2 linked regions of the Homo sapiens genome follow. The protein of the gene in region 2 purifies or fractionates together with the protein of the main gene of each other region. This does not show direct contact. Each region holds a gene or a part of one and is shown on either strand. Other genes may lie near its edges.

Evidence for each region.
Region 1: the proteins of DNMBP (region 2) and SNX9 purify together in Homo sapiens (co-immunoprecipitation; 2 studies listed by BioGRID and IntAct, with this or other methods). This does not show direct contact.

What each region holds. Positions count from the first base shown.
Region 1 is NC_000006.12:157,937,651-157,945,245, forward strand, and holds the end of SNX9 (sorting nexin-9), read left to right. Parts: intron 1-982; coding exon 983-1,097; intron 1,098-3,232; coding exon 3,233-3,324; intron 3,325-5,140; coding exon 5,141-5,188; 3' UTR 5,189-7,427; downstream 7,428-7,595. UniProt on the Homo sapiens protein: Involved in endocytosis and intracellular vesicle trafficking, both during interphase and at the end of mitosis. Required for efficient progress through mitosis and cytokinesis. Required for normal formation of the cleavage furrow at the end of mitosis.
Region 2 is NC_000010.11:99,874,822-99,881,287, forward strand, and holds the end of DNMBP (dynamin-binding protein), read right to left. Parts: intron 6,380-6,466; exon of another isoform or gene 6,282-6,379; intron 5,541-6,281; coding exon 4,990-5,540; intron 2,516-4,989; coding exon 2,330-2,515; 3' UTR 756-2,329; downstream 1-755. UniProt on the Homo sapiens protein: Plays a critical role as a guanine nucleotide exchange factor (GEF) for CDC42 in several intracellular processes associated with the actin and microtubule cytoskeleton.

The sequences.
Region 1 (7,595 bases), on a different chromosome or scaffold from region 2:
TTTTGTAACTGAATTTTGACATTGGTTTGGGGTGTCCTCACATATGAATTCTGGTTTTCTCTCCCTTTTTAAAAATCTGTACATCACCTCAGGCATGAGTTGTGAGTATTTTATATTTTATGTCAACCATAGTAGTCTATCGTATATTATGATGTACTTGGATTTGTTAGGAAAATCTCTGCAAAGGGCTGGTCTGTGATCTTAACAGTCCTGGCATGTGGCCATTTTAGCATTCTGCTTTATAACTTAAATATCATGAAGGGGTACCATAGGTAAATTAGGTTTGTACAACTTCAGATAACTTAATATAAAACTCAGAAAAATTAGCTTGCTGTCGAAATGTATGCCAGCAGCATCAGAGTTGTAGGCCTGGAGCCTAATTAATGCATGAGTATAGAGTTGTTCCTTCCAGACAGCGGTAAATAACGAGCAGCGTGATGACACTGGAGTGGGAAATGTTTGGCAGCTTTTCTAGCCGCTTCCATCTGAGTCTTTAAATGGATTCAGCGCCTCTTAAAAAATCAAAGGAAAGCCCAGGACTTAGAATCAGCACACTTAGGCACTAGCTTATAAAATATTCTGTTGTATAAAAAAAGAGAGAGAGTGCCTGTGTGCACATGCTGCCCTGTACCTAGCCACATGACTTCCAAAACCTGCTAATGCCTGATTTCCATTACGTGCTACTCCTCAAATGGCAGCGGCTTCTGAATATTACAGAGATGGTGTGCTGTTTGCTTTTCTCTTTTGTTGTAGCATAAAACTGTTCATTTTAGCTTAGTGACATTTGTCAAGAATAGCAACCTTTTTGCTTCCAAGGGACTTGAAGGAAGTTAAATTTAGATGCTTTCCTCTCTTCTTATTTTGTGGAGGTATTTCCTGTTCAGTAGCAAATCAGTTATAGAATATATTAGCATTGTTATATTTTAAACTAATGACTAATCATTTCAGCTTTATTCATACTGTTGCATTTTATATTTCACAGGGAGCAATAGAAAAAGTGAAAGAAAGTGACAAACTAGTTGCAACAAGTAAAATCACCCTACAAGACAAACAGAACATGGTGAAGAGAGTCAGCATCATGTCTTACGCGTTGCAAGGTAAGATGAAAGGGTCCTTATGAGGTGCTGGTGGAAGTTTTTTTTTCCCCAGCAAAGTTTCCCTTGATAGAGAGAAATCCAGATGTGAGCAGCAGTTAAGTAAGTGAGACCTTTTAAGCCCCTCGTTTGCAGGATCCCGGTGCTGATGAAAATCTGTAATATTTATTTAATTTTTCACCTGTCCACCTTATCTGGCTATAGATGACAGCTTGATTAAAACTGTACATTTTATTATTTCTGAGAGACATTTAAGATTCCTTTTGTAATCTGTGGTATCATAATGCTCTATTAAATGCCAGAGCCCAGCTTTTAGCAGTCTGTAACCTGCGTGCCTTGGGATCATGGAATGTGAAGGGGTTTGGGTGTGTCATTTTAGGCACAATTTTTTTGTGTCAAGAAAAAAAAAAGATGAATTTCTATAGGTTTGAGTGTTTTTGAGCAGATGAGGGCAGCAAGTGGATTTTTCCTGTTGGCGGATGGGTGGATGGCACTTGGATGGGCAGAGAATGGAGAGCGTGTTCTGTTAGGAACAAAAGCCACAAAATTGTGGTGCTAGATTGTGTCATGGGCATGAAAGAGTAAAACATACTTAGAGGTTATTGGGAAATAAATTTTGATTGTGAAGGAACTTGAAAGCTCTAGACTTGATGCAGGCATTAAGAAGCCATTAAAAGGGAGTAAAAAAAAATCAATCCTCAAGGGAGAAGGATTTGCTGGTTATGGAGGGGAGATTGGAAGATGCAGACACTGTCCAAGAGCCCAGCCAGAAGACCATCTCACTGTTGTAGTCTGAGCTTTGAGGGCCTAAAGATGTGGTACTGGGGAGAAGAGAATGAAGCACATTTGCAGGCTTTTCCAAGGAACAGCTTTCAAGACTGGGGCATTCATGGGAGAAAGAGAAGGATGAGGGAGGTGTCCAGAGCCAGGCCACTACGGCAAAAACGAGGAACCCTGATTGAAGTTTCGGGTTTTGAAGGGTTTGAAATGGGGAGTTTGGTTTTGAACTTGTGTTTGAGGTTATCCAAATTGAGAAATACAAAGCTTTGTATAACTTCAAGTAACTGAATGTAAAATGTAGAACAGTTTGCATGTCATGGGAATCTGTGCAGCCGCTGGCTTTCTCAGCCTGGAGGGTTTGGGAGAAGGCGGCATAGGAGGCATCCGAGGGAGGCAATGAGGTCCTCTGATGACGAAGACTCCTCTAGAGTTGGGGGCAGGGGCAGGGGGGACAGAGAAAGAAGGAATCCATGTATTCAGCAAACATGAAGAAAGTTGTCCCTCAGCATCCAGTCCTCCTGCCCTGTGAGAGGTTGAGTTCTGACAGCGTCGCTGGTGCTCAGGGGCAGCAAGGCTTCCCGTACTGAAGAAGGGTCTCCCGCTGTCCCACACGCTGCCCAGCCTTTCACCAGAAACCTGCTGAAGCAATTGCTGTGCAGGAGGGAGCGGGGCAGGGACCCCAGCTGCCTGCTAGGTCCAGTGCAGACACACCAGAGGCTTTGAACTGCAGTCATCTGTAACAAATATGACCAAGTATTTTCTATTTGATCGATTCTGTTAGAGTAATAGGCTGCATTTGGGTGATTTATCTGTATTGGATTTTATAGTTTTGAATATGCAAGACAGTGAAAGTCATTCATTTACTGGAAAGTAATGTTTGTCATTAGCTTGTTTTGTTTTGTTTGTTTTGTTTGAGACAGTCTCGCTCTGTCACCCAGGCTGGAGTACAGTGGTGCAATCCCGGCTCACTGCAACCTCCATCTCCTGAGTTCAAGCAATTCTCCTGCCTCGGCCTCCCAAGTAGCTGGGATTACAGGCACCTGTTGCCATGCCCGGCTAATTTTTGTATTCTTAGTAGAGATGGGGTTTTGCCATGCTGGCCAGGCTGGTCTTGAACTCCTGACCTCAGGTGATCCACCCACCTCACCTCCCAGAGTGCTGGGATTACAGGTGTGAGCCACTGCGCCCAGCTCAACTTGTTTTTCTAACCTCTTAGTAAAGTGATTTACCAAGAACTGACAACAGCAGCCAACCAGATTAGGTCAGGTTGATGATTAATTGTAACTGAGCAGAGAAACCAGGTGTTGTCATTTGAAAACTTGAGGGAAAACTGATTGATGTTCTGATTTGGGTTGTAGCTGAGATGAATCACTTTCACAGTAACCGGATCTATGATTACAACAGTGTCATCCGCCTGTACCTGGAGCAGCAAGTGCAATTTTACGAAACGGTGAGTGGGCGTCCACGTGCCTTTCGCATGTGCTTGAGGAGAGGGTTCCTGGTAAACCACTTTGACCATGTAAAGTTAATCTGTTTGTATTCTTTAATCCTAAGTAATAAACCAAAGGAGCCTAAATTTTGGACAGGATTTTTTTAATCTCCTAATTCCATCTGCCCTTTGCTTTTTGGATAACACTGGGTTAAAAAAGATTTTCTTCTGAAGCAGGGGTCTTGGATGCTAGTTGCAAGGCCCCAAGAAGTTCCTTATTGTGCAGCTCCTTCCCCCCGTCACAGCCTCTCTGTGCCTCTGTGCACCAGGAACGGTGCTGAATGAGATGAGGTCACCCAGCCGTCCCTGGGACTCCGTTGGCAGCTGGAACAGGAGCCTGGCACCACACAGGAAACCAAAGGCAGCCTTTGCTTTTTGTGAATGAGGTTTTCACAGTGCGCCATGGAAATCGCAGAGAGAAAACCAAAAAAGCGAGATGTGGGATGGTTTTATTCACAAAACAATAACGAAAACTTAAATTTTTCTTACCTCTGCTTAGTAATTTTGTTGTTTACCAGAGTCTATAGAAAACAAAAATCTAGTAGCATGTCTCCCTCAGACACCTGCAGGTAAGGTCTGTAATGTAGAATCCAGCCTCCGCTGGCGGCCTTGCTGCCTACCCAGCTCCCCTCTGGCCATGGGATCTAAGCCATGTTCATGGGGAGTGGTGAGCAAGCCCTCTGCTCAGCCATACTGGTGGCATCTGCGAGCTGGACACTGCTGAAAACGCCTGTCTCCAGCAGCCAGTTCTTAAAGGAGAACTGTGCTTGATGTACCTAATGCATATTTGTGAATTGTGTCTTGGACAGTTGGTTTGGGAGACTAACTTACGGGAGGAACTCACCTAAGCCCTGTCCTCCCTTACAGGACGTGGGCCCTATGCTCTTTAAATGCACACTTTTCCCGTCAGTTGGTGCCATTGTGGATTTGCCTTTCATTGTATATTAGAATATAACAGATTACATTTGTCTGTGTGAGAAAATAATGCAAGGGCAACTCTCAAAATTTTGATAGTGTTGATTTATTGATTTTCAAGTCCAGGTATGGTATAGTGACATTGTAATTCAGAATAGAAAACCATGTATTTCATCACTGTCTTTGCATAAACCTAAGTAGCTGATATAACATTGTTAGGTTTTAGATCTAAGTTTTATGGCAAAGTAACCCTTAAGTTACTAAAATTTGTGTATGTGTTCATGGAGCAGACATATATTGAGTGTTTCTTATATACCAAGCCCTCGTGCTGGATGTTTAGCATCCAGGGATGGATAAGACAGCTGTGCCTTCAAGGAGCAAGAGGCCCTGGCGCAGAGACCACTGCAGCGCCTCGTTAGCTTCACAGGCAGGCTCGTGCTGTCTGCACACTCAGCAGTGACAGCAGGGTGTGGCCAGGGCGACACAACCTTCAGGGGATTCTGGAAGCTCATACTCCTCCAGGAAAGAGGGGGCTCTAGGCAAACATGAAGGCCTGAGCCCCCAGCTCATCTGAGGAAAAGCAGGTGGTCTGGAAGCGCCGCTAGGGCAGAGGTGGGGAGCATGTGTAGACGCCTCCCGGCGGGAAGGGACCACCAGGGCCAGCTCGGGCCCCAGCGCTGCCGGTGTCATTCGGGGTTAAGGTCTGTCCAGCAGCAACGCGGGGCAGGGCTGGTGCCAAAAAGACCAGTTAAAGAATTGGAATTTGTGTCATGTTTAACTTGTTGGAGTTGTGAATAAAGAACACTGTGAGGTCGTAATGGGAGTGATATCTCAACGTTGTTTTGTTTTGCTTTCTTGTCAGATTGCAGAAAAGCTGAGGCAGGCCCTCAGCCGCTTTCCAGTGATGTAGGACAGAACGGGCCTTGAAGAGAATGCCGCGTGCTTTCTCCTGACTTGGGGCAATGCAATTCAAAACTTTTTTTCCCCTATTATTCAGAAAAAAAAGGAAACAAAACCAAAAAGAAAGAGTTGCAAAAAACTGCATTTATTTTATTAGCCACCCTAAATGCGTCAGTTATTTAGGGATGGTCTTTTGTTCATTTCCGCATCCATTATTTAAACCAGTGGAAATTGTCTCTATTTTTGGAAAGTACTTAAAAGTTACCAGAATTTTCAATGGAAAATGAGGGGTTTCTCCCCACTGATATTTTACATAGAGTCATAATTTATATGTCTTATAAATTATAAGTCTTATATAATTTATAAGTCTCCCACAATCTTCCAGTTCTTACCCAGTGTCAGATAATTAATTACTAATTACTTTCTTAAAAACATGAACTATGCCAGAATAAAAAATATCTATGTTTGTATATTTTTATAACTCCTTTCAGTCCTCTGGGGCTCCTGTCATTGAGGGAAGTCGTTACGCCTTTCACTGCCACAGTTACAGCTCAAGTGCTTACACTTCAAGAGGGAGGACGCTGGGGGCCCCTGGGGCTGCTAGTGCCATCGTGGTGTGTGGCAGGTGGGCCATCCCATGTCCCTCCAGGGGGACCCCACAGCCTGGCAGATGAGCAGATACCCCTGGCCACCCATGTCCTCAGCGACATTTCTGATGTGCTGCTCTTATGTGAGGACCAGTGCTTTCTCTCTTTGCACTTCCTTCCTAATCTTGGTTAAGGCATGTTTTATGCCATGAAGAATACATTAGAAGAATTGAGGGACTTTGTAGAGAATTTTGTGGCTTTGGTCCAACGGGTGAGTGGCTGTGCGGAGGCCTGTGTTCGGGAGGGCCTGGGAGAAGGAGGGCACCCAGCACCCCGGCGTCTCTGGCCCTTTCTTATTCTTTGGCTCCTCATCCACCGTGATGAGAAGCGCTGCTGTGGCCACGGCACACTGCTTGGCTTGGGTGGCGGGTTCATGGCCAGTTGGTGTCATCAGCAAAGAGAAAAAGCACAGGTTAGCTCCCCATTAGATGGAAAAGTGTAGGGACTGAGAAGGGCTGCAGCCTCAGCAGTGTACAGAGTCCCCGGCGCTCTGAGGTTGGAGAGAAAGAACAGACCAGCGCCCTTCCCGACTACATCCGAAACTTCACACAGGGTGTTTCTGAGCACCAGCACTTCCAGCGCTTCACTTAACGGCATAAAGCAAAACAGGACCTTGGCACACCGTCAGCTCGAACTCAACACTGGCAGCCACCGTCTCACCCCTGCGGAGGAGCGCTCCCGTCTCCCACAGGTGCCTTACCGCGTTCCCTCCCGCTGCTTTCATTTTTCTGACCTAATAATTACGGGAAATGGAAAGTCTGGGCCAGCATCAATAAAATGACACCAAAAATAAGTAGATGAAATCAAATGAATATGAGAACATCTTGTTCTTCAATATCACGGGTTTTTGTTAATGTTTCATAAGTAATTCTCCCCACTTGATTTTTCTTCTATAAAATCCCATAGAACAATGTTTATGCTATAGCCATTTAATATATGTACAAATTGTAAAGAATATGTATAAATGTTTTACACGAATGTAAGAGCATGTAGAAGCCAACATATAAATAAATTGTTTAAAAAAACTGTACAGTAAATTCTCAAAGCACTTTTTCAAAACACTTTTTGGACTTTGTGTGTGATTTTTGTTGTTGTTGTTAAGTACTTTTTATTCCAGCTGCTGAAAATGGTCCAGGTAATGAATTCTTCCCCAAATCCTATTTCTTCTGACATGAATTCATCATTTCAGTTCCGTAGGTCAGTGTTGCGGTCCGGGAAGCGTATCATAACCACCTGGGAGTTGCCAAGAAGCAGACAGTCTCCCAGTGTCTGACTCTCGGATATTTGGATTTGACTGGTGTGAGGCAAAGTGAAAAAGGGATGGGGGAAATGGAGATGGCACGGGCTCCTCAGAGCGTGGTAGCCGACTGTGAGGAAAAGCAGAGGGAATGTGAAAGAAAATAAGAGAATCCACGGGATTTGATGCCTGGAAGATTCTCCTTCAAGTGGCAACATGGCATATATATCCTTCTCCGGGGAGTCACATGCACCATTTGGTTCTTAGATACGTTGATGTTTTGATTTTTAATGATTTGTATCAACCTGTAGGTACCACAGAAGAGCTGTAGTCATACAATCACATAACTTTTACAAATATAGTGGAAAAAAAGTCAGTATTTGGAGAGGAGAGATGAAGGCGTGGTGGAAGAAAAGGTCAGTCTCGTTGTCAAGCAAGTGACGTCAGTTGCCTCCCACCAGGAGCAGCAGTCCCGGGATGTCAACCCACTGCATGGTTTGTAGGTGTTGGGGTCACCAAGAAAGATGACTCAC
Region 2 (6,466 bases):
TTACTGTCACCCACCATACTGTCCTCAATCCCACCTCTGCCACTAGCCCTGCCACTTCCTTCCCTGCCCCCAACTGCCTGAGCTGCTGCTCCGTGACCTTGTTAGATAACCTTGTGTATCAGTGTCCACATCTGCAATATCAGGGAAATACTTATCCCCTAGAGATCCCAGCTCTTCTGTTTCGTTAGAATTTCACAGGACAAGATGAAAATAGAGGCAGTCACCTGCAGCATGGACATATTTTGAGTATACAGAGATTTTTTTTTTTTTTTTTTTTGAGACAGGGTCTTGCTATCGCCCGGGCTAGGGTACAGTGGTGTGATCTTGGCTCACTGCAACCTCTGCCACCCAGGTTCAAGCAATTCTCAGCCACTTGATTAGCCAGGACTATTGGCATGCAGCACCATGCCCGGCTAATTTTTGTATTTTCAGTAGGGATGGGGTTTCACCATGTTGGCCAGGCTGGTCTCAAACTCTTGGCCTCAAGTGATCCGCCCACCTTGGCCTCCCAAAGTGCTGGTGGGATTACAGGTGTGAGCCACCACACTCGGCCTGAGTATATAGAGATTGTTGGAATCTTTGACAGAATGACTTTGGGCCTGCATTTCTTCAGTTAGCCTCTCCCATTCTCCCAGATCTGGACATCACTCATTGTCAAGAAGGCCTCCCCAGAAGCCCAGGAAAAACGTTCAGCTTAAACAAACAAACAAAAAAACCCGTTCAGCTTAAACATGGAAATCAAGAAAACATCCAAGGCCATTAGAAATGCTTTTATTTATAAAAGAACTACTTAAATATAAACATCTCTACATAGAAACACTCTTCACAAAAGGACTCTTGCATTACTGCCTTCTGACCACGACCAGCAGACACTGTGGATGTTAGGACTCCACGGTGTCTCCCGACTCCCAGGATTTTAAGGCTAAATGTGCACTTGGAGGAACAGGGGCTGTAAGGCTATTTCTTCCCTTTCTTTTAAAAGACAAATTTCATGGTTTCCCATTCCAAGATAGGCTTCATAGCTGGGGAAGATCTTAAGATTCTTGGTCTAAGGGGTAAGCAAATATCTTCCTGAGACTGGGAGGTATGATCAGGCACTTGGGAATCTGGCTTTGAATGTCATCTCTGAAGCATGGAAGTTAGTGGTGAAAAAAATCTTATTTCCAAGTCTAGGATAAGCTACTTCTGGAATGGCTTATCCCAATTCAAGTAAGTCACAGGTGTTATGTTGTCTGCATCTATGGATGTAACTAAACAGTCATTAGGGTGCTTGGATGAAGAAGAAAGACATCCAGTCTTCCATTAGGCTCAACTGGTTTCAGCTCAAAGCAGAACTAATACTTTTAATGGAATGGCTGGAGCTCTCATACTGTTACTCTAGGAAAATCTATCAATTATTGAGTCCAGGGCAGGGGGGCCACCAGACATCACAGACTGTGTAAAGACCATCAGAAAGGTGTCATTGAGGTTGCGGTATGGTGGCTTACACCTGTAATCTCAGCAGGGAGGCGGGAGGGTTGCTTGAGCCCAGGCGTTTAAGACCAGCCTGGGCAACATAGCAAGACCCCATCTCAAAAAAAAAAGCGGGGGGGCAGTGATTGTACCTAACAAGGGAAGAGAATCTTTCAGATGAAGGGTCAACAGAAAATAAAGACCCTAAACACTTCTAAAAGTAGAACGCAGTTGAATTTTGCATAACTAATCTGGGAATGGAGTAAAAGAAACAAGGTTACAGAATGTAGTGCTTTAGGGACTTTAGAAATTAGGGGCAGTATGTATGAGAATGTGTGCTGGACACTGGAGGTGTCCCAGGAGCTTTGAAGCACTAGGTTTGGTTCAATCCCGACAAACTCCCAGCCATGTGCAAGCACTGCCTCACGGGGTGCCCAGAGCCATGAATTCTTTTCATCTGAGTTGGCATCCGGTCAGCTGAGCATGGAACATGGGGCCACCCCAAACGCCGTACAGCACAACCATTACCAACACTGTCTATTGCTAGAGCACAGCTTCCTGCATACATAGGACACTGGGCTTCTGACTGCAAGTTTCTCCTTTCCAAAAGCCAGCTCTAAGACTTGTCTCTCTTCTCATAGTCACTAAGTCATTTGCAAAGCCCCAGGGTCCATTTCAAATTCTAGAGATTCTAGTGAGCATCAAGGTTTACAACCCAATCGAGGAGAACAAGATCTGTGGTGTGCTCCACCATGCCATGGTTAAGCAACGCAGACAGGGCCTGTGTCTCAGGAGCAGGCGCCCTCTCGGTGGGCCGCCAGAACCCTCGGCGGACTGAAAGCAAAGGCAGCAAGGCTGGGTGGCAGGCAACGTGGGCTCAGGTGTACTCGGTTTTGCGGATATAATTGGAGGGAACGTAGCCCTTCTTCCCGTTAACCTCAGCTAACCACCACTCTGTATTTCCTGTAACATCTTTAAACTCGAGGATCTTGAGTTTCTGATTGGCTGACACGCTCAGCTCATTTGGGTTTCGTGCCTTGAAGGTGTAGACAGCAAAATAGACCTGTGTGAGGGAGAGAGAGAAAATGGGAAATTGCTGGGAGCAATGCCATCCAACAGCTTCGTGCGGTGTTGGGGAGGGTTCCACATCCACATGCCCACATGTGGCTACTGAGCCCCTGAAATATGGCCAGTGAGACAGAGGAACTGAATTTTTAATCTTATTTAATTTTAACTAAAATAAATTTAAATAGGTACATACGGATGATGGCTACCATAATAGGGATGATTAAAAGAAAACACCAATTTGGCCGGGCACGGTGGCTCATGCCTGTAATCCCAGCACTCTGGGAGGCTGAGATGGGTGGATCACCTGAAGTTGGGAATTTAAGACCAGCCTGGCCAACATGGTGAAACCCCACCTCTACTAAAAATACAAAAATTAGCCGGGCGTGGTGGCACACACTTCTAATCCCAGCTACTCACGAGGCTGAGACAGGAGAATTGCTCCAACCCAGGATGCAGAGGTTGCAGTGAGCCAAGATCGCGCCACTGGACTCCAGACCCTGGGCGACAGAGTGAGACTCTGTCTTGGAACAAACACCAATTTGGGAGGCTGAGGGCAGATCACTAGAGGTCAGGAGTTTCAGACCAGCTGGTCAACATGGTGTGAAACCCCATTTCTACCAAAAACACGAAAAATAAGCATGATGGTGAACACCTGTGATCCCAGCTACTCCAGAGGTTGTGGCAGGAGAATTGCCTGAACCCAGCAGGCAGAGGTTGCACCACTGCACTCCAGCCTGGGCAACAGAGCAAGACTCCATTTTAAAAAAACTACCTTTTCAGTCTTTTAGAATTGCTTTAAAGGGTGGAAGACGAGCATACTCTTCCATACCTCCAACACAAATTATGAAAAAGAAAAACCAGAAAACCACAACCAACTTCAAAGAAAAGTTGATCTTTAGATGCCACAAACAAAGATCTCATGATCTAATGCCCATGGAAGGGAGGAGCTCAGGGAGGAGGAGAAGCCATGAGGCCCATGGGGGCCAGAGGGAGGGACACGTGCCCCAAGGGCTGGAGCTTTAGGACCTGGTCAGGGACTGGAGCTGAGACTACAACTACATTCCCTGCTCGAACTCAATCTAAGAAAGGTCCTTCTTTTCCCTTTGATGTGTCTATAATAACTGTCTGCTTGGTAGGCCCAGAATGGGGATGTTTGACCCGGGAAGTAGGTAGTAAGAGAAATCACCAGAAAAACGAGCATGCACAAAGCTCGGCTATGGCACTGAGGAATGTGCTATGGGAAGCCTGAACTGAGAAAGTGGGTAAAAACTGGACTCTTAGAATCCAGACAGTGGCAGAGGCAGCACCTCTACAACCCAGGACACGACTGGGCCTTCCCATGAGGGCAAATCCTTCTGGAGATGAGCTCGCAGACAAACCTGACAGTCAACACAGGAAGATGCTCCACTGAAGAGCGAGCAAAGGCAACAAACGGTGCAGCAAAGACTCTGCAGCTGTGAATCTGAAAATGGCTTTAAAGCATACAGGTTAGTTCAAGATATGGCCAGCTGTGGGTGGCTCACGCCTGTAATCCCAGCAAATTGGGAGGCCAAGGCAGGCAGCGAGGTCAGGAGATCGAGACCATCCTGGCCAACATAGGGAAACCCTGTCTCTAATAAAGTAGTCCCAGCTACTCAGGAAGCTGAGGCAGGAGAATCGCTTGAACCTGGGAGGCGGAGGTTGCAGTGAGCTGAGATTGCGCCACTGCACTCCAGCCTGGGCGACAGAGCAAGACTCTGTCTCAAAAAAAAAAAAAAAAACCCAAAACGTTTGAGATACAAAGCCTACAATCAAACTCATAAACGGGAACAGGCCATTACAAAGAGAATAGGAAAAACTGGGGCTGGGCACAATGGCTCACGCCTGTAATCCCAGCACTTTGGGAGGCCGAGGTGGGCGGATCACTTGAGGCCAGCAGTTCCAGACCAGCCTGGCCAACATGGTGAAGACTGTCTCTACTGAAAATACAAAAATTAGCTGGGTGTGTTGGTGTACACCTGTAATCCCAGCTACTCAGGAAGCTGAGGCATGAGAAATGAGAATTGCTTGAACTTGAGAGGTGGAGGTTGCAGTGAGCTGAGATCATGCATTCCCCATCCTGGGTGACAAACTCCTCAAAAAAAAAATAAAGTATGGTTACTTGAATCAAAAACCAAACAAGTGGATTAAATGGATGTTATACAACTGAAGAATTAGTGAACTGGAAGAATAATGAAGTTGTCATTATAGCACCTTTTAAACACCCAGTGACACAGAGGGGTCCAGGAATAGCCTGTGAAGTATCAGCAGGGGAAGGTGCTCAGAAGGCTCTGATGGCAGAGATTCCTTGTGTGCTTGAAAGGTGTGTCTGTGAGCTCATCTCAGATCACCCCTAGGCCTCAGGCAAGCCACTTCTGCCTCACCCCCGCTGGTACCCACAACACATCTGCTGCCGCCTGTGCCACAGTGGCAGGCCTCTTACGCACTCACCTGGTTGCCTTCTGCCTCACTGCCATCTGGCTCTGTACTTCTGTCTTCCGGAGCCTGGGCTGTTCTTGCACATCCTTTGACGAGGTCTTGACTTTGCCCATTTCGTCCTGGTACGGAGTAGCCAACTATTTCTGGATGCCTGAAGTTCCGGTAGCTCCTCGGCGTGGCAGTGGGTTGCTTTACATCTCTAGCTACATCTGCAGAGTCCCCTGACCTTGGCTGGGAGGTGGAGTCTGGGTCTGAAGGGCATCTGGAAGGACTACTCTCTGAATTACTCGGATTTAGGGATGCACTGAGAGTTCCTTGGTCACATTCTTTTGGCGGAGGAGATGCATCTTGAGGCTGCTTCTGGCAAGACCCCGAGGTAAAGGATACAGCCATGCTGCTGGGGTTGAAGGTCAGGGTGCTGCCGCTGTTCTGGCGTGGGAACCTGGGGGAGGAGCTGCCGTGCTCAGACTCTGTGGAGGAGTGGCTACCCACGGAGGCATCGGAGTGGCTGCGGCGAGGATTGTAGGGCTTTAGGAAAGAGCTGTACACGAAGCCTTTGGTGACTACAAAGGAAACAGGAAATATAAACAAGAACTCTTAGCAGAAGGCTGGACAGACAGAGGGAGCATTGAGAGAAAAAAAACTGATCTAGGTTATTCATCTGTAAAATGAAGAGTAAAACAAAAACTCAAAAGCCAGGCCAATAGTGAGAGACACAAAATAAAATGCCTAGTGACAAAGCGGCTTGGAACACTCAGTCCCAGGATGTGATGTGTGTAGGTAGAGATGAAGAGCCGCAGCTGCCTGCCGGTTCATTCATGTTCACAACCTCACAACAGATGCATGCTCAGGAGGCCCATGGCCAACTGAGAAGACAGCAATGAAAACAATCCATGTCTGGGAACCGGCATGGGAAGAGAATGTCATAGGACACTGAGATCATGCCTAAGAGGAAGGCTTGATGAAGCCTATGTTCAAATACAGCAAGTGTGGAAAAGACCGAGTTAAGAACCAGCCTCGGCAGCGCACGGGAGCTCACGCCTGTAATCCTAGCTCTTTGGGAAGCTGAGATGAGAGGATTGCTTGAGCCCAGTTCCCTGGTCAACACAGCGAGACTTCATCTCTATTTGAAACAAAACAAAACAAACTGGGTACAGTGGCTCATACCTGTAATCCAGGCACTTTGGGTGGCTGAGGAGGGCAGATCACCAGAGGTCAGGAGTTCACAACCAGCCTGGCCAACATGGTGAAGCCCCGTCTCTATTAAAAATACGAAAATATTAGCCGGATGTGGTGGTGCGCACCTGTAATCCCAGCTACTCAGGAGGCTAAGGCAGGAGAATCGCTTGAACCCAGGAGCCAGATGTTGCAGTGAGCCAAGACCATGCCATTGCACTCCAACCTGGGCAACAAGAACGAAACTCCGTCTCAAAAAAAAAGCCTCAGCTCAAGAAGCCCCTCCATAGACCTCCCTGCCCTCTTTCCCACC